Homo sapiens: one gene and its partners. The protein of the gene in region 3 interacts with the protein of the main gene of each other region in a biochemical or structural test. Each region holds a gene or a part of one and is shown on either strand. Other genes may lie near its edges. The genes, in order: PML, TUBB4A, NR4A1, MAPK14, BNIP3L, MAP3K1 and KAT2B.

What was found.
Region 1: the proteins of NR4A1 (region 3) and PML form a complex in vitro, tested with the Homo sapiens proteins (one study listed by BioGRID).
Region 2: the proteins of NR4A1 (region 3) and TUBB4A form a complex in vitro, tested with the Homo sapiens proteins (one study listed by BioGRID).
Region 4: the proteins of NR4A1 (region 3) and MAPK14 form a complex in vitro, tested with the Homo sapiens proteins (one study listed by IntAct).
Region 5: the proteins of NR4A1 (region 3) and BNIP3L form a complex in vitro, tested with the Homo sapiens proteins (one study listed by IntAct).
Region 6: of the proteins of NR4A1 (region 3) and MAP3K1, one has a biochemical effect on the other in vitro, tested with the Homo sapiens proteins (one study listed by BioGRID).
Region 7: the proteins of NR4A1 (region 3) and KAT2B form a complex in vitro, tested with the Homo sapiens proteins (one study listed by BioGRID).

Annotation. Positions count from the first base shown.
Region 1 is NC_000015.10:74,036,216-74,039,715, forward strand, and holds part of PML (protein PML), read left to right. Parts: exon of another isoform or gene 1-179; intron 180-3,500.
Region 2 is NC_000019.10:6,493,819-6,496,564, forward strand, and holds the end of TUBB4A (tubulin beta-4A chain), read right to left. Parts: intron 2,404-2,746; coding exon 1,346-2,403; 3' UTR 501-1,345; downstream 1-500. UniProt on the Homo sapiens protein: Tubulin is the major constituent of microtubules, a cylinder consisting of laterally associated linear protofilaments composed of alpha- and beta-tubulin heterodimers.
Region 3 is NC_000012.12:52,057,223-52,060,003, forward strand, and holds the end of NR4A1 (nuclear receptor subfamily 4immunitygroup A member 1), read left to right. Parts: coding exon 1-37; intron 38-129; coding exon 130-308; intron 309-1,465; coding exon 1,466-1,722; 3' UTR 1,723-2,281; downstream 2,282-2,781. UniProt on the Homo sapiens protein: Orphan nuclear receptor. Binds the NGFI-B response element (NBRE) 5'-AAAGGTCA-3'. Binds 9-cis-retinoic acid outside of its ligand-binding (NR LBD) domain.
Region 4 is NC_000006.12:36,072,808-36,076,307, reverse strand, and holds part of MAPK14 (mitogen-activated protein kinase 14), read right to left. Parts: intron 3,436-3,500; coding exon 3,324-3,435; intron 2,618-3,323; coding exon 2,588-2,617; intron 2,260-2,587; coding exon 2,212-2,259; intron 461-2,211; coding exon 346-460; intron 1-345. UniProt on the Homo sapiens protein: Serine/threonine kinase which acts as an essential component of the MAP kinase signal transduction pathway.
Region 5 is NC_000008.11:26,396,554-26,400,053, reverse strand, and holds part of BNIP3L (BCL2/adenovirus E1B 19 kDa protein-interacting protein 3-like), read right to left. Parts: intron 1-3,500.
Region 6 is NC_000005.10:56,818,549-56,822,048, reverse strand, and holds part of MAP3K1 (mitogen-activated protein kinase kinase kinase 1), read right to left. Parts: intron 1,817-3,500; exon of another isoform or gene 1,304-1,816; coding exon of another isoform or gene 1,233-1,303; intron 1-1,232. UniProt on the Homo sapiens protein: Component of a protein kinase signal transduction cascade. Activates the ERK and JNK kinase pathways by phosphorylation of MAP2K1 and MAP2K4. May phosphorylate the MAPK8/JNK1 kinase.
Region 7 is NC_000003.12:20,148,446-20,151,674, reverse strand, and holds part of KAT2B (histone acetyltransferase KAT2B), read right to left. Parts: coding exon 3,188-3,229; intron 1-3,187. UniProt on the Homo sapiens protein: Functions as a histone acetyltransferase (HAT) to promote transcriptional activation. Has significant histone acetyltransferase activity with core histones (H3 and H4), and also with nucleosome core particles.

The DNA of each region.
Region 1 (3,500 bases), on a different chromosome or scaffold from region 3:
CACCCTTGCACTCTCCTGTATTCTGAGTCCCTGGCCAATAGCACAGCCTTCCATGCCCCGACCCCCACCCCAAGCCTCTCCACTAGGCCTCTGCCAGGATCTAAGCCCATGAGCACAGGGACTGGCTATCCCAAGACCTGGCAGATGTGGCTGCTCAATAAACACTTGTTGAACCATCACCCTTGCGAACCCTTATTCCACGACCATCGCGTTCTCCGATGGATCCAGCTCCTCCCTGCAGGCTGTTCTCTCTTCCCTATGCTGGAACTCAGTTCTCCTCTGGGGATACCATGTCCCCTCTTCCTCCCACACTCATGGGCATCAGAGGTGGGAGGTAGGGTCAAGGCCCCCTGCTTCCTGGACTGTTCCAGCCCCTTCCTGGCCGTCTGGTAAGATCCTCTGTCCCTCTCAGGGTGGGCCCCATGCTCCCCAGCTCATCCCAGACACCCACCTGCCCACCCTCATTGAGGGCAGACGTGAGCATTCACCTCCCAGATTTCTTCTCCCTGCTCAGGTCCTGCCTTCCTCCTGAGTGACTTCTATTTCCACCCACCTGCCCGCCACTCCTTAACCTCTCAGGGGTTGTCACCCCATTCCCCCAGACAGCTGCCTGCCCCGTGGCCGTGCCCTGCACCTTGCCATCACCGAGCACTGTCGGTCCCTCAGCCGGTCCTCTCAGACTCTGACCGCAGCCTCCTGTTCCTTGAGCTCTCAGTCCTACCTTCGCCTCCCTCCAGCCCCGCGCACTCCCCATTTCATCCCATCTTTCATCAGAATTGCAGCTCCCTGCCCAGCAGAAAATCCTGGAAGGACTCAGGAGCTTGTCGCCTCTGTGCTGCCACCTGGAGACCGAGATCTGCAGGAGAAAGGCCTGGGAAAACTATGAGTGGTTGCCTGTGACTGCTAAGGGCTCCTTGGTGCTCCGCCCAGCATGTCCTTTTGCTCTGCAGGGCAGCCCCCGCCTGCCTTTCTTCACTGGGCCCTTGTCCCAGCCTCACCCTCAGCTGATGGCGGCACCTTCTGCTCCAGGGAGAAAACAGGAGCTCTCCAATGGCATAGGGACAGTTGACATCTTGCTATTTACAGATCCCCATCGCACCCCTTCCCTGCCCTCGTTAGGGTGGAAGGGATGTCCACCTGCCTCCAGGACTCACCCTGTGTCCTGGCCCCAGCCCTTGACCCCCTGGGAGCCTCACTCCTCCTCCTCATCTCTCTTGCATCTTCTAATGTATCCACTGCCTTCTGAACTAAACACCCTGAATGAGGTCTTTCTCATCTCAGAAAACTCCACCCACTTCTCTCTCCAGCTGTCGGCTCCCCTTCCTCTGCTCTCCTTGTTTACACTTCAGCCCCCTCCTTGCCCCTTCTTCACCCCACCTCCTGCGCTTCCCCGCCAGTACCAGGGTGGCCTCTGTGCCTCTAGGTGCAGTGTCGCGTTTAGTCGTTATTATTCTTGACCGGCGCTGGGCCCGGTCTTTCCTGGAAAGATCGCCTGCTCGGATGCAGCTCTGGGCACTCCTCCCTCTCCTCTGCAGGCTCTGTTTTTTCTTGGTTGTGGTGCTCCTGCAGGTTTGCTGCTGGGCCCTTTCCTCTTTTCAGTCTGTGTATTCTCCCAGGTGCTCTCAGCCACGCCCCTGACTTCAGTTACTGCCCAGGGGTAGCTGATACCCAACACTCGCACCTGCCTGCCAGACCAGCATGGCCAGTGACCTTCCAACAGCTCCGCATGGATGCCCATAGGTACCTCAAACTCAGCACCTTCTCCTCCCGTCTCACTGGCTCGCCCCACTCTCTGCCCGGTTGCACAAGCCAAGACCCCATAGCCACCCAGGGCACCCCCCTTTTGATTATTCCTCACATCCAACCAGTTATTGAGTCTTGTCTTTCTAGGGTGTAAATTCCTCTGAAATCTGGGCACTTCTTTCCATCCCATAATCTTGGTAAAATTAAAGCTACCACTGACCCTGGGTAGAGGCAGAAGCCTGGGAAGGAAAGGTGGAGAACAGGTTTGGAGTGCCAACAGTGTCCCCAGATGTCATGGAGAATCAAGTAGAGGGACCCCAGCAATATTGGGGGTGGGGCGGGGAGTATGTAATGCTCAGCTATCAGCAAGGAGTCATTAGGGGCTATACAGTGAATTAAGGGAGGGGGTAAAAGCACATTTCAGGTGATGATGAATTAAATACCTAGGAGCTCACATTAGAGAGCAGGCCTAGAGACGTGGGGAGAGAGCCAGAGGACCGCTGCTTTTGTGTATGTAGCTTTAAGACACAGGTTTTAAAAATTGTTATAGGAGTCCCAAACTTTAGAAAATATATATTTTAAAACCCCAACAAATTAGGTCCCCCCTATGCATTTCTCACCCAACTTCTGGGCCCTTTCCAGACCCCTGGTGCCCCCAGAGTACACCCAGCACCACCACTGCAAATTCCTACTCCCCAGCTTGGAGGGGGTGGGGTGATATTCCCAAGGTGATCCCGGCTCCCACCTAACCCATCCTCCCCAGCTCTGCAGCTTATATCCAGCTTTGCAGTGAGGAAAGTTGCAGAATACTGGTCTGCTACATTACTACTTTCCAAGTGTATCAGGGCATTTAGGAACCCCTCCCTTGAGCTTCACCTGTGTCCTAGGGATTCAGTGAGAGACTGTTTGTGCAAGAAGGAGCGAGAGGCAGCAGGGCATAGTCATGGGGTGGAGCAGTGAGTCCCCCAGGCCTGGTTGTGGAGTACCTGGGGTGAGGACTTTGCTTAAAAACTGCCAGAGTGGGTCAGCAGTGCGCCTGCCCTGGGGCCCCTGCTTTAGGATCCAAAGTGGAAAAGATAGGTGTTTTCACCCACTCTTGTGACAGATTACTGGCTCCGGTGCCTTGGTGGCAGCAGCAACAGGAGGGGGCCAAGGTGAGGGGGCAGCCTGTGGCAGAAGTGGCAGTGGTGACGGCGGAGGAAGGGAGGCCTGTGGGGAATGGCTGATCCAGGGGAGGGGCCGTGGCACTGGTGAGTGTGCATCTGAGAAAATGAAACGGAGGTGCTGGCCAAGAGGCTGGAGCTAGGCAGAAGGGCAGCAGAGGCCACAGGCTGGCCGAGTTTATGGTCCAGTTCACTCATAACATGTGCAGTATTCCTGGGGTCTTTGAGGCTTTGCAAGAGCTGGGGTTTTGTGTCTGCAGAAAGATAGCAATGCATGTGTCTTGCCAAACTGATCCCAGCTGTAGCTGATGCTTAAGTGCTCAGAAAGTTCTTCAGGAGCTTGAGGGCTCTTGATAAGCATGAATGTCAGATGTTCTGTATCTTCCAGAGGCTGGATGCTGACTATCAGAGTTTGGCTTGTGTTTGGCTGATGAGCAAACCTGGAATGAATCAGTGATAAGGACAATTGTTCTCAAGCTGGCTGTACACTGGGGAGTTTTCCCAACTACAGATTCCTAGGTCCTACGCCCTGAGATTCTAATCGAATCAGTCTTGGGTGCAGCCTGGGCCTCAGTTTTTTCTTAAAGCTATGAA
Region 2 (2,746 bases), on a different chromosome or scaffold from region 3:
CCACCACCACGCCCTGCGAATTTTTTTATTTTTAGTAGAGATGGGATTTCGCCATGTTGACCAGGCTGGTCTCTCCTGGCCTCAGGTGATCCACCTGCCTCAGCCTCCCAATGTTGGGATTACAGGTGTGAGCCACCGTGCCCTACCCCTTTACTTTCTTAATAAACGTGCTTTTACTTTATGGACTTGCCCTGAATTCTTTCTTGAGATCCAAGAACCCTCTCTTGGGGTCTGGATTGGGACCCCATTCCTATAACAGTTGTGGGGGGATCCTGGGGGAAAACATACGATCCCATTTTACAGGTGGGAAGACCGAGGCTGAGAGAAGGCAAATGGCTTAGTCAAAACCTCAGGGTTAGTGGGTGGCCTAGCCTGGCCCGTCTGATCCCTCCCCAGCACGCCCCCCATCCAGAGATGAGATGTCATCGGTACCCTCCTCCATCCTGTAGAGAAAAGCCCGCACTTGCTGTAAGAGAGGAAAGAGGGATTCGGCAGAAACATCCATGACAACAATTAATTTATTTATTGAGGGTGAGGCAGGGAAGCGGGGAGGGAGGGTAGGGGTGACCTCTCTTCCTCACAGGCACCAGGCCTTGTTTCTCTCCCAGATAAGCTAAGGTCGGCAGGGGCTGAGGGGAGTGAGGCAGGGAGGATGCATGGGGCCTGTGGGAATCAGAGAGAAGCTGGGGTCAGAGGTAGGAGCTGACGCTGTGGGGGGTGGGGGGTGAAAGGTGAGGCAAGGTCAAAGGTGAACTGCAGCTCGGAGGGAGGGGTCCAATATAAACCAGGACTTGCAGGTGTAGAAGTAAAATGGGACTCATAGAGGGTGAAAGAGAAGTTGGAGTCAGAGGGGATTCAGAGATCAAAGAGAAGTTGGGGTCAGAGGTAGGAGCTGGGGCTCAGGTGGGGGGTTAAAGGTGAGGCAAGGTCAGCGGTGAAGTGCAGCTCAGAGGGAGGGGTCAAACATAAACCAGAACTTATAGGTCTAGAGGTAAAATGGGATTCATGGGGGGCAGAGGTCAAAGGTGAAGCAGAAGTCAGGGGTGAAGGAAGGTCTGCAAAGTTAAAGGTGCGGTTTCCAGAGTCAGAAGGGGTGAAGCGGGGCTCCTCCTGGGAATGTCAAGGTTGGAAGAGCTCAAGGGGGTTAAAGATAAATTAGGGCTCAAAGGGGAGCCAGGGTCGGAGATGAAGTAGCCAGAGGTAAAGCGAGCTCCAAAGGTATTGTTAGGGTCAGCGGGGAGTCAGCCTTGGAGGGAAAGCGGGGCTCTAGGGTTCAGAGATGGGGGGCCTAGCGGATCAAAGGTCAGAAGCCTCGAGGGGACAGGTGGGAAGCGATGGGAGCAGCCTAGGCCACCTCCTCCTCCGCCTCCTCCTCGAACTCGCCCTCCTCGGCCGTGGCGTCCTGGTACTGCTGGTACTCAGATACCAGGTCATTCATGTTGCTCTCGGCCTCGGTGAACTCCATCTCGTCCATGCCCTCGCCCGTGTACCAGTGCAAGAAGGCCTTGCGCCGGAACATGGCCGTGAACTGCTCGGAGATGCGCTTGAACAGCTCCTGGATGGCCGTGCTGTTGCCGATGAAGGTCGCGGCCATCTTCAGGCCGCGGGGCGGGATGTCGCACACGGCCGTCTTCACGTTGTTGGGGATCCACTCCACGAAGTAGCTGCTGTTCTTGCTCTGCACGCTCAGCATCTGCTCGTCCACCTCCTTCATGGACATGCGGCCCCGGAACACGGCGGCCACGGTCAGGTAGCGGCCGTGGCGCGGGTCGCACGCCGCCATCATGTTCTTGGCATCGAACATCTGCTGGGTGAGCTCGGGCACCGTCAGGGCCCGGTACTGCTGGCTGCCCCGGCTGGTCAGGGGTGCGAAGCCGGGCATGAAGAAGTGCAGGCGAGGAAAGGGAACCATGTTGACGGCCAGCTTGCGCAGGTCGGCGTTCAGCTGGCCCGGGAAGCGCAGGCAGGTGGTGACCCCGCTCATGGTGGCCGACACCAGGTGGTTGAGGTCCCCGTAGGTGGGGGTGGTCAGCTTGAGGGTGCGGAAACAGATGTCGTAGAGTGCCTCGTTGTCGATGCAGTAGGTCTCATCCGTATTCTCCACCAGCTGGTGCACAGACAGCGTGGCGTTGTAGGGCTCCACCACCGTGTCTGACACTTTGGGCGAGGGCACCACGCTGAAGGTGTTCATGATGCGGTCTGGGAACTCCTCGCGGATCTTACTGATGAGCAGCGTGCCCATTCCGGACCCCGTGCCACCCCCCAGCGAGTGGGTCAGCTGGAAGCCCTGAAGGCAGTCGCAGCTCTCGGCCTCCTTCCGGACTACGTCCAGGACAGCGTCCACCAGCTCTGCGCCCTCCGTGTAGTGCCCCTTTGCCCAGTTGTTGCCGGCTCCGGATTGGCCTAGAGAGGGAAGGGGAGGGGACACACATGCAGTTATGGGGAGCCCCAACCCTTGACTCTGTCTCTCCACCACCTGGAGGGCCTCTAGTAGTTGAATACTAGTAACTATCAAAAATAATAACAAATAGCCGGGTGCGGTGGCTCACACCTGTAATCCCAGCACTTTGGGAGGCCGAGGTGGGCGGATCACGAGGTCAGGAGATCGAGACCATCCTGGCTAACACGGTGAAACCCCGTCTCTACTAAAATTACAAAAAAAATTAGCCGGGAGTGGTGGCGGGCGCCTGTAGTCCTAGCTACTCGGGAGGCTGAGGCAGGAGAATGGCGTGAACCCAGGAGGCGG
Region 3 (2,781 bases):
CCTTCCTGGAGCTCTTCATCCTCCGCCTGGCGTACAGGTGAGAGCCACTGACTGTCTGCCCAGCCCCTTTCCCTGATACACCTGCCTGTGAACCACCCTGATCGCTCTTCGTGCCCATCTGCCTGCCAGGTCTAAGCCAGGCGAGGGCAAGCTCATCTTCTGCTCAGGCCTGGTGCTACACCGGCTGCAGTGTGCCCGTGGCTTCGGGGACTGGATTGACAGTATCCTGGCCTTCTCAAGGTCCCTGCACAGCTTGCTTGTCGATGTCCCTGCCTTCGCCTGCCTCTCTGCCCTTGTCCTCATCACCGGTGAGTGACCAGCACCACACCAGGTCCAAGGGAATGGGCGTCAGGGGGTTGACTGGTTCTCAGGAGGGCACTGTCCCAGGGAGTTTGGTGGGCCGGGATCTAGCACTTTCTGGGCCCCTGCACTGCCCCGGGCTCATGCCAGCAGTAAAGTAGGGACCATAGGAATTGCAGATGGGCTCAGCTGCATCCAGCTCTAAAGCGCAAGACAGCCTTTGGTCCCAGACTGTCAGGATCCAGACTGCAGGTGTCATGTATGTGGCCTAGGGTATTGGCTTGTTTTTAAAACCTTCCTGTCAATTATGCTGCATATAGAAAAGTACACAAATGGTAAATTTTCATAAACCGCACTTACCCAACCAGCGCCTTGGTCAAGAAAGAGCACATAACTGCCCCCCAGAACCCATTATTGTGCCCCCTTCCAGTCATTTGCCCTCCCCAAGGGTAACCACTACTTTTTATTTAAATATTTTAAAAATAAGATGGGAATCTCACTATGTTGCCCGAGCTGGTCTCGAACTCCTGGGCTCAAATGATCCTCCTGTCTCAGCCTCCTAAAGTGCTGGGATTACAGGTGTGAGCCACCACGCCTAGCCCTTCACTGTGACTTCTGACAGTGCAGATCAGATTGGTTGTGCCTGTTTTGGACTTTATGTAAATGTAGTTCTGCAGGATGGAATCTGGTGTTGAATGCAGAGGTTTTCAGATTTCTCTGTTTTTTAAAGGAAAGAATCCACCCTCGTTCATTTTTTCACTTAAATTGCACAGGGGACCCAACGATATAGAACACAATCAGAGGTACTCTGGGCTGAGGGAGTGCTGAGTTCTGAGGCTGGGTTTCTCAGAACAGTCTAGATTTTAAAAACCCAATGATCTAGCCAGAAAACGTAGGTTAGGATTTTATTTCCCGTTTGTGACCCTGGGCAAGTCATTAGCCTCCTGGGCCTCGGGTTCTCACTTGGAGTATGAGGATAATGAGGGTTACTGCTTCTCAGACTTGTGACGATGCTTACTAATGGCCAACATGTGAATGCGCTTTTGTGAAGTGCCAGCAGAGCATGAGGGGTGGTCAGGGGCAGCAGTTTTAGGGGCCTGGGGGAGGCTGGGGCTTTGGGGGCCTGGTTCTCAGATGTACAGCTAATCCTGTACCCTTCCCGCAGACCGGCATGGGCTGCAGGAGCCGCGGCGGGTGGAGGAGCTGCAGAACCGCATCGCCAGCTGCCTGAAGGAGCACGTGGCAGCTGTGGCGGGCGAGCCCCAGCCAGCCAGCTGCCTGTCACGTCTGTTGGGCAAACTGCCCGAGCTGCGGACCCTGTGCACCCAGGGCCTGCAGCGCATCTTCTACCTCAAGCTGGAGGACTTGGTGCCCCCTCCACCCATCATTGACAAGATCTTCATGGACACGCTGCCCTTCTGACCCCTGCCTGGGAACACGTGTGCACATGCGCACTCTCATATGCCACCCCATGTGCCTTTAGTCCACGGACCCCCAGAGCACCCCCAAGCCTGGGCTTGAGCTGCAGAATGACTCCACCTTCTCACCTGCTCCAGGAGGTTTGCAGGGAGCTCAAGCCCTTGGGGAGGGGGATGCCTTCATGGGGGTGACCCCACGATTTGTCTTATCCCCCCCAGCCTGGCCCCGGCCTTTATGTTTTTTGTAAGATAAACCGTTTTTAACACATAGCGCCGTGCTGTAAATAAGCCCAGTGCTGCTGTAAATACAGGAAGAAAGAGCTTGAGGTGGGAGCGGGGCTGGGAGGAAGGGATGGGCCCCGCCTTCCTGGGCAGCCTTTCCAGCCTCCTGCTGGCTCTCTCTTCCTACCCTCCTTCCACATGTACATAAACTGTCACTCTAGGAAGAAGACAAATGACAGATTCTGACATTTATATTTGTGTATTTTCCTGGATTTATAGTATGTGACTTTTCTGATTAATATATTTAATATATTGAATAAAAAATAGACATGTAGTTGGAACTGAGATTCAGTCTGTCTCTGATGCCCCCTCCCCACTCCCCCACCAGACACACCCCATCATTACATAAGAGATGGGCTGCTCAAGATGAAACTTGGATGTTACCAGCCTGAGCTGTCAGGCCTCAGTGTACTCATTTGTAAAAGGCGGATAATAATGACACCTGCTTCACGAGGTTGTTATGCAAAGCACTTAGACTAATTTCTAACACGTGGGAAGCCTGCATTAGCTGTGCCTGGCTAGCTGTGCCTGGCTCATTGCTGGGGTCTGCAGTGGCTGACTAGCCCAGGGGTCACTGCAGGGCCCTAGCAATAGACTTAGCCGCAGATCTCAGGGTTGTCATGTTTCCTAAACTGGACATATATTCTCTGATTCTTGATTTCCACATCCATAAAACAAGAATAGACCCAGCCTCACAGAGCTTTTACGGTCAGAGGAGTGTGTGTGTAATGCTTAGCATGGGCTGGGTTTAAGTAAGCCCAAATTGGTAGTAGCTGTTACA
Region 4 (3,500 bases), on a different chromosome or scaffold from region 3:
TTTAAAAAGGGGCAAGTTTCTTATTAGTAGAATGGTAGATTCTTCCAAGTAACATTGAGGGGTTAAAATTATGGACTAATTGTCTTTAGGTATAAGTACTCAGAGAATATATTCAAAATCTAAATAAATAAAAACCCAATTGCTAAATCACAAGGTTTAAAAGCTGTGTATAAAACCCCACTTCCCCATCTGAGGAAGTGAAATATTTTTACTTGCAGGCTTTAAAAGGATCACTGAGGGAAGAAAAGACATTTCTTCCCACTCCCACCATCTCTATTTCTGAGAATCCCAAATGCATCCAACATGGAATTAAATAAGGCCCTAAATAACCAAGGCGAGTAATACCTGTCTGGTTGTAATGCATCCAGTTCAGCATGATCTCAGGAGCCCTGTACCACCTAGTGGCCACGTAGCCTGTCATTTCATCATCTGTGTGCCGAGCCAGTCCAAAATCCAGAATCTAAAGGGCAGAAGAGGAACAGACAAACTGCTAAGACTTAGAAACAGGCAGGGAAAAAAAAACAAAACAACAACAACAAACAAACCTCTGTTGCCTTATTAAAAAGGAGAACAAAATAGCACTTTCATAAAGAGATTTCCTGGTCCATACTTAGAATGTATGGTAAATATACAGCAAGAACTTAAAATGAAATTACAAAAAGCAAAACAAAAATGTCACTCCCAGGTATTTAATCAAGTGCAATGAGAACTTACGTCCATACAAAGGTTTGCACATAAACATTCACAGTTGCTTTACACAGCCTCAAACTCAAGCAAATGTCCATCAGCAGGTGGATAGATTTAAAAATTCTGTTATGTTCATAAAACAAAATACTATTACCAATAAAAAGGAAGAAACCACTGACACACACAACAATACCGAATCATTACACCAAGCAAAGGCCAGACACACAAAAATACACACTATATGATTCCATTTACATGAAACTCCAGAAAAGATAAACCTAATCTATAGTGTTAGAAGCAGATCCATAGTTGCCTGGAGCCAGAGTTAGGGGTGGAGGGGTAGGGATTGACTAGGAAGGGACACAATAAACTTTTTTTTTTTTTTTTTTTTTTTTGAGACGGAGTCTTGCTCTGTTGCCCAGGCTGGGGTGCAGTGGCACTATCTCGGCGCACTGCAAGCTCTGCCTCCCAGGTTCACGCCATTCTCCTGCCTCAGCCTCTCAAGTAGCTGGGACTCCAGGTGCCCGCCACCATGCCCAACTAAATTTTTGTATTTTTAGTGGAGATGAGGTTTCACCGTGTTGGCCAAGATGGTCTCTATCTCCTGACCTCATAATCCACCCGCCTTGGCCTCCCAAAGTGCTGGGATTACAGGCATGAGCCACCACGCCTGGCCATAAACTTTTTAAAGTAATCCAAATGTTCTTGGCTGGGAGCAATGGCTCACACCTGCAATCCCAGCACTTTGAGAGGCCGAGGCAGGTGGATCACGAGGTCAGGAGATCGACACCATCCTAGCCAACATGGTGAAATCCCATCTCTACTAAAAATACAAAAATTAGCCGGGTGTGATGGCGTGCACCTGTAGTCCCAGCTACTCGGGAGGCTGAGGCAGGAGAATCGCTTGAACCCGGGAGGCAGAGGTTGCAGTGAGCCAAGATCACACCACTGCACTCTAGACTGGGCAACAGAGTGAGACTGCATCCCAAAAAAAAGGAAAAAAAAAGAAATGGTCTTTATCATAAATGTGAGTTAAGTGGATATATAATTTTGCCAAATGAAATGGTGCATTCTAATGTACAGACATTTTTTCAAGTTAAAAAAATGAAATGGAACAAAAGTTCTAGAGCTGCTTGCTATTTAGAAACAATTAATTCACTTATTTTTTATTTGAATTATTTTGAGTGAGTGGGTTTCTGCCATTTCTCCTCTTAGAAATGTATTTAATCTAGTTATCACCTCTTTGGGCCTACTTACTTGATATTTGACTATTATCCTCCTTTATTATGACTAATATATCAAATTTATAATTTAACTTTATGTTAAAATAAAAACAAGTGATGCCACTTTCAATGTCACTTAGCTTACTCAGAAATGGTTTAAATTTCAAAGTCTGATAATAAAAATAATACGAATTTCAGATAGTCATGGCTCACAAAGCTACTCCCTAAGAAAGTCTGCCTGCTTAGTCAAACATATAATCTCAAAGTAAAGCAAACAATGAATACTGTCTCTTCATTTTACCTTCAGCTCACAGTCTTCATTCACAGCTAGATTACTAGGTTTTAGGTCCTAGGAAGCAAATACAGGGAAGACAGGATCAACTTTATGATGCATGATCAATTCTCCCCCTACAGGTAATAATGAGGATCCAGACATAAAAGACTTCATCCAGCTATCAAAAGACAATCTCCATCCTACAGTCAATATCCAGTCCAAGTTAGCCTTACATAGAAAAAAACTACACATCTTCTTTCTTTAATCAGCTTAAACCTACAGTAAAGTTGCAATCAATCAACATTTCAATGGCTAAAGTTTAGATTAGGATCTTGGCTAAATGCCATTCTTCCACTCTCACCCCACTTCCCCAAAATAATGTAATCAAAGTCACAATACATACCCTGTGAATTATGTCAGCTGAATGTATATACTGCAAAAGAGAAAAAAGTCAAAGTTACCTCCAACCTTCTATTGTCATATTATATAACATATTTGCTGCACATTTTCATGAATCAGTAAGAACTGCTAGTGTTAATAGTAAGATTAGAAATCAGCATAAGTAACTATCAGTATTGTGTACATTTACCATTACTATAATTTCCACAGCCATTGACTCCACTCAGTTGAGCTTTTAATCTATTTTCTGGTTGGCACTCTGGAGCTCAATAAGGACTCAAAGCAGCTAAATATCAAAGATGGGTTTAATTTTAAAACACTGTTTATCTGCCCCTCCAACAAATAAATTAGTCTTTCTTGAGGATTTTTTGAAAATCTCAACATTACGCTGACCAGATATTAGATTACATCAATAAATTATTGTTTAGATGTAAGAATGAAGAGTCCTTATCTTTCAGATATGCAAACTGAAGTATCTATGGATGGTATTATATAATGTCTAGACTTGCTTTAAAATAATCCAGGGCTTGGGAAATACAAAAGAAACATGATTGGCCATATGTCGGTAACTGTTGTCACTGAGTGAACATGGCAGTTTACTGTACTATATGACCTTTACCTGTGATTTTATGTGTTTGAATTTTCCATTAGAAAAGTTGTTTACTTGTTTGTTTAAGCCCTAAAAGGAGGGGAGAAAGGGAGAATTCATTTTAAAAAATTATTACTTGTATTATCTGTACCTTTAGACCTCGGAGAATTTGGTAGATAAGGAACTGAACATGGTCATCTGTAAGCTTCTGACATTTCACAATGTTGTTCAGATCTGCCCCCATGAGATGGGTCACCAGATACCTAGAAATTAGTGAAAAGTTACATAACAATCTAGAACCCCTAAGAAAGTTCTTATCTTCAGAAGA
Region 5 (3,500 bases), on a different chromosome or scaffold from region 3:
CAATTCTGTGAAGAAAGTCATTGGTAGCTTGATGGGGATGGCACTGAATCTGTAAATTATCTTGGGCAGTATGGCCATTTTCACGATATTGATTCTTCCTACCCATGAGCATGGAATGTTCTTCCATTTCTTTGTATCCTCTTTTATTTCCTTGAGCAGTGGTTTGTAGTTCTCCTTGAAGAGGTCCTTCACATCCCTTGTAAGTTGGATTCCTAGGTATTTTATTCTCTTTGAAGCAATTGTGAATGGGAGTTCACTCATGATTTGGCTGTTTGTCTCTTGTTGGTGTATAGGAATGCTTGTGATTTTTGTACATTGATTTTGTATCCTGAGACTTTGCTGAAGTTGCTTATCAGCTTAAGGAGATTTTGGGCTGAGAAAATGGGGTTTTCTAGATAAACAATCATGTCATCTGCAAACAGGGACAATTTGACTTCCTCTTTTCCTAATTGAATACCCTTTATTTCCTTCTCCTGCCTGATTGCCCTGGCCAGAACTTCCAACACTATGTTGAATAGGAGCGGTGAGAGAGGGCATCCCTGTCTTGTGCCAGTTTTCAAAGGGAATGCTTCCAGTTTTTGCCCATTCAGTATGATATTGGCTGTGGGTTTGTCATAGATAGCTCTTATTATTTTGAAATACGTCCCATCAATACCTAATTTATTGAGAGTTTTTAGCATGAAGGGTTGTTGAATTTTGTCAAAGGCTTTTTCTGCATCTATTGAGATAATCATGTGGTTTTTGTCTTTGGCTCTGTTTATATGCTGGATTACATTTATTGATTTGTGTATATTGAACCAGCCTTGCATCCCAGGGATGAAGCCCACTTGATCATGGTGGATAAGCTTTTTGATGTGCTGCTGGATTCGGTTTGCCAGTATTTTATTGAGGATTTTTGCATCAATGTTCATCAAGGATATTGGTCTAAAATTCTCTTTTTTGGTTGTGTCTCTGCCCGGCTTTGGTATCAGAATGATGCTGGCCTCATAAAATGAGTTACAGAGGATTCCCTCTTTTTCTATTGATTGGAATAGTTTCAGAAGGAATGGTACCAGTTCCTCCTTGTACCTCTGGTAGAATTCGGCTGTGAATCCATCTGGTCCTGGACTCTTCTTGGTTGGTAAACTATTGATTATTGCCACAATTTCAGCTCCTGTTATTGGTCTATTCAGAGATTCAACTTCTTCCTGGTTTAGTCTTGGGAGAGTGTATGTGTCGAGGAATGTATCCATTTCTTCCAGATTTTCTAGTTTATTTGCGTAGAGGTGTTTGTAGTATCATTTTTTGTCTATTTGATTCTTCTCTCTTTTTTTCTTTATTAGTCTTGCTAGCGGTCTATCAATTTTGTTGATCCTTTCAAAAAACCAGCTCCTGGATTCATTGATTTTTTGAAGGGTTTTTTGTGTCTCTATTTCCTTCAGTTCTGCTCTGATTTTAGTTATTTCTTGCCTTCTGCTAGCTTTTGAATGTGTTTGCTCTTGCTTTTCTAGTTCTTTTAATTGTGATGCTAGGGTGTCAATTTTGGATCTTTCCTGCTTTCTCTTGTGGGCATTTAGTGCTATAAATTTCCCTCTACACACTGCTTTGAATGCGTCCCAGAGATTCTGGTATGTTGTGTCTTTGTTCTCGTTGGTTTCAAAGAACATCTTTATTTCTGCCTTCATTTCGTTATGTACCCAGTAGTCATTCAGGAGCAGGTTGTTCAGTTTCCATGTAGTTGAGCGGCTTTGAGTGAGATTCTTAATCCTGAGTTCTAGTTTGATTGCACTGTGGTCTGAGAGATAGTTTGTTATAATTTCTGTTCTTTTACATTTGCTGAGGAGAGCTTTACTTCCAACTATGTGGTCAATTTTGGAATAGGTGTGGTGTGGTGCTGAAAAAAATGTATATTCTGTTGATTTGGGGTGGAGAGTTCTGTAGACGTCTATTAGGTCTGCTTGGTGCAGAGCTGAGTTCAATTCCTGGGTATCCTTGTTGACTTTCTGTCTTGTTGATCTGTCTAATATTGACAGTGGGGTGTTAAAGTCTCCCATTATTAATGTGTGGGAGTCTAAGTCTCTTTGTAGGTCACTCAGGACTTGCTTTATGAATCTGGGTGCTCCTGTATTGGGTGCATATATATTTAGGATAGTTAGCTCCTCTTGTTGAATTGATCCCTTTACCATTATGTAATGGCCTTCTTTGTCTCTTTTGATCTTTGTTGGTTTAAAGTCTGTTTTATCAGAGACTAGGATTGCAACCCCTGCCTTTTTTTGTTTTCCATTTGCTTGGTAGATCTTCCTCCATCCTTTTATTTTGAGCCTATGTGTGTCTCTGCACGTGAGATGGGTTTCCTGAATACAGCACACTGATGGGTCTTGACTCTTTATCCAATTTGCCAGTCTGTGTCTTTTAATTGCAGAATTTAGTCCACTTACATTTAAAGTTAATATTGTTATGTGTGAATTTGATCCTGTCATTATGATGTTAGCTGGTGATTTTGCTCGTTAGTTGATGCAGTTTCTTCCTAGTCTCGATGGTCTTTACATTTTGGCATGATTTTGCAGCAGCTGGTACCGGTTGTTCCTTTCCATGTTTAGCGCTTCCTTCAGGAGCTCTTTTAGGGCAGGCCTGGTGGTGACAAAATCGGTCAGCATTTGCTTGTCTGTAAAGTATTTTATTTCTCCTTCACTTATGAAGCTTAGTTTGGCTGGATATGAAATTCTGGGTTGAAAATTCTTTTCTTTAAGAATGTTGAATATTGGCCCCCACTCTCTTCTGGCTTGTAGGGTTTCTGCCAAGAGATCCGCTGTTAGTCTGATGGGCTTCCCTTTGAGGGTAACCCGACCTTTCTCTCTGGCTGCCCTTAACATTTTTTCCTTCATTTCAACTTTGGTGAATCTGACAATTATGTGTCTTGGAGTTGCTCTTCTCGAGGAGTATCTTTGTGGCGTTCTCTGTATTTCCTGAATCTGAACGTTGGCCTGCCTTGCTAGATTGGGGAAGTTCTCCTGGATAATATCCTGCAGAGTGTTTTCCAACTTGGTTCCATTCTCCGCATCACTTTCAGGTACACCAATCAGACGTAGATTTGGTCTTTTCACATAGTCCCATATTTCTTGGAGGCTTTGCTCATTTCTTTTTATTCTTTTTTCTCTAAACTTCCCTTCTTGCTTCATTTCATTCATTTCATCTTCCATTGCTGATACCCTTTCTTCCAGTTGATCGCATCGGCTCCTGAGGCTTCTGCATTCTTCACGTAGTTCTCGAGCCTTGGTTTTCAGCTCCATCAGCTCCTTTAAGCACTTCTCTGTATTGGTTATTCTAGTTATACATTCTTCTAAATTTTTTTCAGTTTTCAACTTCTTTGCCTTTGGTTTGAATGTCCTCCCGTAGCTCACTCTAATTTGATCGTCTGAAGCCTTCTTCTCTCAGCTCGTCAAAATCATTCTCCATCCAGCTTTGTTCCGTTGCTGGTGAGGAACTGCGTTCCTTTGGAGGAGGAGAGGCGCTCTGTGTTT
Region 6 (3,500 bases), on a different chromosome or scaffold from region 3:
ACTCCGTCTCAAAAATAAATAAATAAATACCAAACGATATACAAAAACTCCTAAAAAAAGACAGTTCTTGCCTTCAAAACTCGTCTTAAGCTAGATCATGATTAAAATCTCACTACAGTAAGTTAATCTTCAGATATACTAATTTAACCACTTTTGGAAAATTAATTCATGTTAACATTTCTGGGTACCTAATATTCATGGGTGCCAGACACTAGTCTAGATGCTGGGAGATGGTGCAAAGAATCAGATAAAGTTCCTGGTCTGTTAACAACTGATGTTTAGTATTCAGAATACCATAAGACCAGTTTGAAGATTATGTGTTAACATATAACTTAAATTATTGTTTAGGCAATGAAGAAAAGTAAAGCCAGACACAGTGGCTTGCACCCATAGTTCCAGCTATGTGGAAAGATCACCTGAGCCCAGGAGTTCGATTCCAGCCTGGGCAACATAGTGAGAACCCATTTCTAATTTAAAAATAAAAAAAGAAAAGTAATGATAACATCTGTCAAGAGCAAAGCTTCCACCTACACCCCAGTACTGACCCTGTTCTCACTCCATGTCTATCCATCATTATGCTTACAAGTGATGAACTTAGTTAACGTACTAACTACAGTACTGTGTAGGCTGTCCCATGTGGCTCCAAGCACTTTCTCCAGGCTTCAAGAGGTCTGGTGGCTTAGTAATTCCCAGGTGACAGATGTGTACTTGCAGAATTATACACTTGGTGAGTTTTAACAATTCCCCTTAGTATGCTACAACATCTCCACATCTCGATCAAATTAACATCTGCATCAAACCAGCCTGGTATTCCAAAGGACTCAATCACTAACAATACAGAACTCCCTTCCATACCAAACATAACTCAATCACCAATGACATGCCATAGAGTAAATAAAGACAAGGCTATCTTCTTGATCATCTTATGCCCTAAAGAATATTTTATATTTCTCCATGTTGTTTTCGTAACTAGTAGAGTTGCTGTTACTAATAATAAAGACAGAATTTCAGAACTAGCAGTAGCAGATGTTGAATTTCTTGCTCCCCGTATCTCCTTTTTAATTTTCCCTTGGAAGAAAAAAAAACATGCCTGAACATGCAGTGTTGTATATATTCTTATCAGAAAATAGGCAGAAATAGTTTGAAACTAATATGTTGTATCCCCTCTGTATCCCCATCTCTCTTATAGCACTTAACACGGTATTGTGAAACATGTTCATACTACAACCTACCGACAGAAACAGCTTGTGCACTCATGATCTTTTTCTCCACCACTCAAGACCACCACCTTGCAGAAGTTCATAAATGTTGAATGGATGAAATCTAAAACAATAACAAAGGGGTAGGGTCTAGCAATAGTAAAAGTTTCTCTTCCTGTGTGATTACCATGAATGAACCATATTAATTTCAGCTTATCTCCTTTCACTTATGATTTAATACAGCACAAATCAATAAATCTAAGAAACATTCAACACTAATGACTAACCCTCTTTGGCTGACATGATAGGGTGATCCAAATACAGTTTACTTGTATTACATATACAAGGCCAGGTTACAGAAACATACCTATTATATACATTAACAGGCAAACTTAGCACAGGGTAGAGACCTAGCTCATGGTCTATTAGAATGCCTGCAAAACAAATTTCTCCTTAAAAATAATCAATTAATTTGATTATTAATTTGAAAAAAGAAAATGGAAGAAGCAGAGTAGTGGAAAGAAATGGACTGTGGAGTCAGTCTGACTTGGGATTGAATCCTAGCTGTCTTCTAGTTGTGTAATCATGAGGTTTTACCATCTCAGATGAGTTTGCACCTACAGAAAACAGAAATTACACTATCTTAGGGGGCTGCAGTGATGATCAAATGAGATTATATATAAACATATATATAATACATATAATAGATATCATACACACACACAGAAGGCAAAAGAGTTGATTATGTAAAAGGTATCTAGGCATATCTATATGCTCAATGAGTATGTTTTAAGCCACAGATAAAATCCTAATATATTTTTGCAAACTGAAAAGAGTATCTGACTAATCTCATGCTTTGCAATGAACCATTTACTAATTCCGGCCCTGATTATTTCTTTCATGATTAAACATGTTCTTAAATAATTTCTTAAAGACAACTTTGGGTTACTCCTAATCTTACACATTTCCTCACATTAATAGTCTACCATTTACATGTTTAAGTTGCTTTAGCTTTTAACTTAGGATATAGAAAGAGGCAAGGACTAAGGAAAACAACCAAGTCTATACTTGATATATTTGATAGAAGCAAAGAATTCCAAGATTAGAGGTGTAATATACACGCAGTTCCTAAGCAGCCTCTAGAGACTACTACTTTTCCATGACACATTTTCCCATCGCCTTCTGTGTAACAGACAGCCCTCAACCCAAGAAGATGACTGGAGTACAAAATGCAAAAGAGGTGCTTTCTACCTGAGAGCATTTCTGAATGCCCCATATTTTTCCTCATGGTAATCCATTCCCCATTAACTACCTTGCCACCCCCTCATTTCTTCCTTTGGGATGCACACAGCCAGTGTCAAGGACTGATTAGCCGACTCAGCCTAGGCAAGCTGTAGCTGGTTTTTTTTTTGCTCTTGTTGAAAGCAAAAAAACACTCCTTTCTTCCCACATTTTGAAATCTGCAAGTTGACAAGTCAGTGGCCATTTCTAAAATATGCAACATATTATGCTCGAGGTGCTATGGAAGTTGTAAATGAATATCAATGAACAGGGCTACTTCCTGTTTTTCGTATCTAACAAAATGGAGTTTTAGTGCATTGGAAATCGTATATTAAGGAATGTTGGTTAACCAGTCACTCTTGCCAAAATCAGATATGAAAAGAAAATAAAAGTTGGCAACAATTCTAGCTCTTATATTTCTCTTCCAGAATTATATTAAGGTTCATCTTTGAAGAATGCATTAATTTTCTTATCTGATTTAAAATGAAACTGACACCATTCTTAACTAAAAACTTACAAATTCACGGAAGACTAACTTATGTGACTACCTTTATTTTTATAAAGTCACCCACTTAATATTTTAAGAGTAATTTTTAGGTAATAATGCTCTTATACCTCCTCTTTAGTAAAAGGTCACTAAATCATATTTTTAGCCTAATAGCTTTAAAAAGGAAGTGAAATCTGAGGGCTATATGAGGATATAAAAGCAGCCTGTGAAATACCTTTAGTTTTAAACAAAAACTAACATTAACAAGTACAGCATATCTTGTTCTTTCACGGGGCCAGCAAATTGATAGTTTGGTTTTTTAAGTTACAAAAATAGGATGGGGTAATTATATCTACCAAACTCACAATAGGCTGTTCAATGGAGAGTAACACTGTAATTTTTCTTCAAAGACAGTAAATAGGAAGAAAAAGCCCCTAAATTCTGTAATATAAGGAAAAATTCCAAACCCTTGGGCGCCACTTACAGGCACTTTCACTGATTTCAGCTATCACCCTGAAAAAGAGGGACAAACT
Region 7 (3,229 bases), on a different chromosome or scaffold from region 3:
TGTAGTATTTTACAGGTGAAAACAGTACTCCATCTAAACTGATAAAACTAAAGTAGGGTTTCTTCAATCCTCACTGTCAGGACTAATTTAAGGAATTCTATGCAGATTAGAATAGACGCTAACATTTGTCTATTTATGGTTCCCTGGTTGTCTTGAAGTCTGGCTTTATTGTTAAAAGCTATAATTGTATTAACTATGTGTGGAAAAATAAGTCAAATGGGAAAAAAAAAACCCCACTTCTGACTACCAATATCCCAAATTATAAGTATGTTATAAAATTTCCAGGGGGAAAGAAACCTATAACCAAATACATTGGGATCATCATTTAATAAGGTAAGTAAATGTACGTACAATATCCCCAAATGGGAAGGAATTCATTTGCATCAATATCCTAAATCCACCACAAAAGCATCAAAGAAGAAATGGAAAAAAGCTGCTTCTGCCTATCTCTTGAATAAAGCCTATCTTGGTTAGAGTGTATGTCATCACATCTGTAAATTCAACTTTCAACTTTTCTTTCTTCTCTAAAACAGTTTGGAGAGAGATAAAAATCTAAAAGCGCTAAGAAACACAAAGACTCATCAAATCTCACACTAAATGTCCCATCCAAGTGTGACTGAACAGATCAAAATGTTCTCTCATTTAAAGAAGAAAAAAACAATGAAATTGGCCCTAAGTAAAAGTAGATGTTTACATTCCTTTCACTTTTCCACCTAAATGTCTACCACTTAAGATATGCTGCCCAATATAATATGTATAATGTTTTAAAAGGAAGAAACATGTACCCCCCAAAAAGGGGGAGGGGGAGTAAAAGGATGACACGACACAAAGAAGTTTGTCCAAAAGCTTTTCGAACTTTTTTAGGAGATGGGTAAGAAAAGATGGAGAGAGCCTAAAATGCAGCAGAAACAAAGCAAGAATTATGGCGGTGTCTGGACTTTTCTGAATAACTATAACCAATTCTGAATACTTCCTTTCTATTCTAAAGCTATAGATAGCATTCTTCTTCCTCTGGCCTTCGTAGAGTTTTTTCAATTGACAAAATGAGGTGGGTTAAAAAAGGTGACTAAATATTGGTGGTACCAAATATAGAGACACCATTAAATTATTCAGTTTTCATGTCCTTTCCCCTTAACTTGGGAATTCTGGGTAAGCAGCAAAACCCTGCCTAGCCATCCATGGGTAACAAGAAGTCATGCTTGGGCCAGACTATACAGCTGATGTCCAGTGTGTGACTCCCTAAGTAAAACAGGTTAGATCCCATCCATATGAGAGAAACAGTTTTTCAGAATATGGGGAAAGAAAAGTAATGTTATTAGAAAAATCAAATAAGGAAATCGTGGGAAAATGTAAAATTACTGATTTGTCAATCTTGTCTTCAAATACAAGATAATCTTGGGGACAAGACTAAATATTTTACTCAGCATCTGAACAATACCAAGAAAAAAAATACTGCCCTACTGAAGAACACCATTTATAGCTTTAACTTTGTCCAGCACACATTTCAGCCCATCACTGGCCTTGCTCAATTAGGTCAGTTTCCCCCCTTGTGAGACTCAGCTATGCATACAGGTGGTATCCAACTGGAGAAGTTCACAACCTTCACGGGTGGGACCAAGCAAAACACTTTCAGAAAGCAGGCTGCAAGTAGGCTATGATCGACGAGATCTGCTAGACCTATCGCTGCACGTCATCAGAGTGCATGTGCACAGGGGCTGAAAGGGCCCCAAAGTCACACAGCTTCCCATGGGGGTTTCCCAAAAGAAGCTGAGATGGTCCAGAGGAAGAGGATGCAAAAATCAGTTAATTTATGGTTGGAAATGGACACAAAGAGTTTTAACATATTTTGCACATAGTGGACAATATTGATTCCCAAATCAGCCTTCCATTCAGAATTCTAGACTGAGTCAACCATACCCTTTATTTTCTTGTACTGAAATAAATAGTGGTAAGTCAGAGAGAAGAGAGAAAGAAAAGCATATAGATGTGTGTTCACTTTAAAGGGTGTAGGCTACTGAAATCATTACTACAAATATATAAAATATTCATGTGAAACATTTAAATGCTATAGAAAACACCTGTAAATAACTCAGTTTTCAAGGAGCTAATGCGTCCCTTTCACTCTTCCTTTTCACATTTTTAACACTTCCACAATTTTTTTTTTTTTTTTTTTTTTTTTGAGATACGGTCTCCCTCCAGTGCCCAGGCTGAAGTGCAGTGGTGCAATCACAGCTCACTACAGCCTCAAACTCCCAGGCTCAAGTGATCCTCCAACCTCAGCCTCCCAAGTAGCTGGGGCCTCAGGCGTGTGCCACTGCACCTGGCTAATTTTTTACTTTTTGTAGAGACAGGGTCTCACTACATTACCCAAGCTGGACTTTCACAGTTCTTAGCACCTGGAATAGATTACAGGTAGAAAAGAGACAGAAGACTCTGGCTCTCTCCAAAAATATGGCCACATAGCTGATAAAAAGAAAACATTTCAACTGGTTGTCACCCACACAATGCCAAATTAGTTTAATTTGAGCGACCTCAAATGATTCAATTAATCATTAATTTTAGAGTGGTGTGGGCACAGCACCAAACTGCACAATTCTACATTTCTGAAGACATCCTTTTTTGTTTGATTTTGGATATGAGACAAAGCGTAAAATAAAGAGTATATACAGTGACATTAACAGTACCCATCAAGGGCATGGAAAATCAAGAATTGTGGTAAGTAGAATTTCTCCCTCTGAAAGTACAGCAGTCAAGTACTTTAATCTAACTTCTTTCATTATTATCCTGAATAATTATTCAAAGGAATACCTATTTACGACAGACGCAAAGCATATCAAGAGGATAAGCTGATGTTTTTCTATTTGCACCAAAGAGTTAGAATATAAGCAAAGTTATATCTAAAGTGCCAGCTTTCAAATCTAGTGCTGTCTGCAGTTACCGTGGATTTTCTGCGTCTAGTGTCGTTAAGCTCATGTGGGCTCTAAACGACAGCTGCAGAATGTCTCTAATGAACACAGCCACCCACTTCTCTGCCATCACTGACCCGCCACGGTGCATGGAATCCCACCACCCGTCATACACTTCCTACCCTAAGCAGAGGAGTACAAATCAACCTCAGCAACCATTTGTCCCCCACACCGCCATCCAGAGTTTTAAATCTATACTTAGAAAATGTTAATGGTATTACCCATGGGGAACCTTATAACTTCATAATATCCTGGAGCTTCTG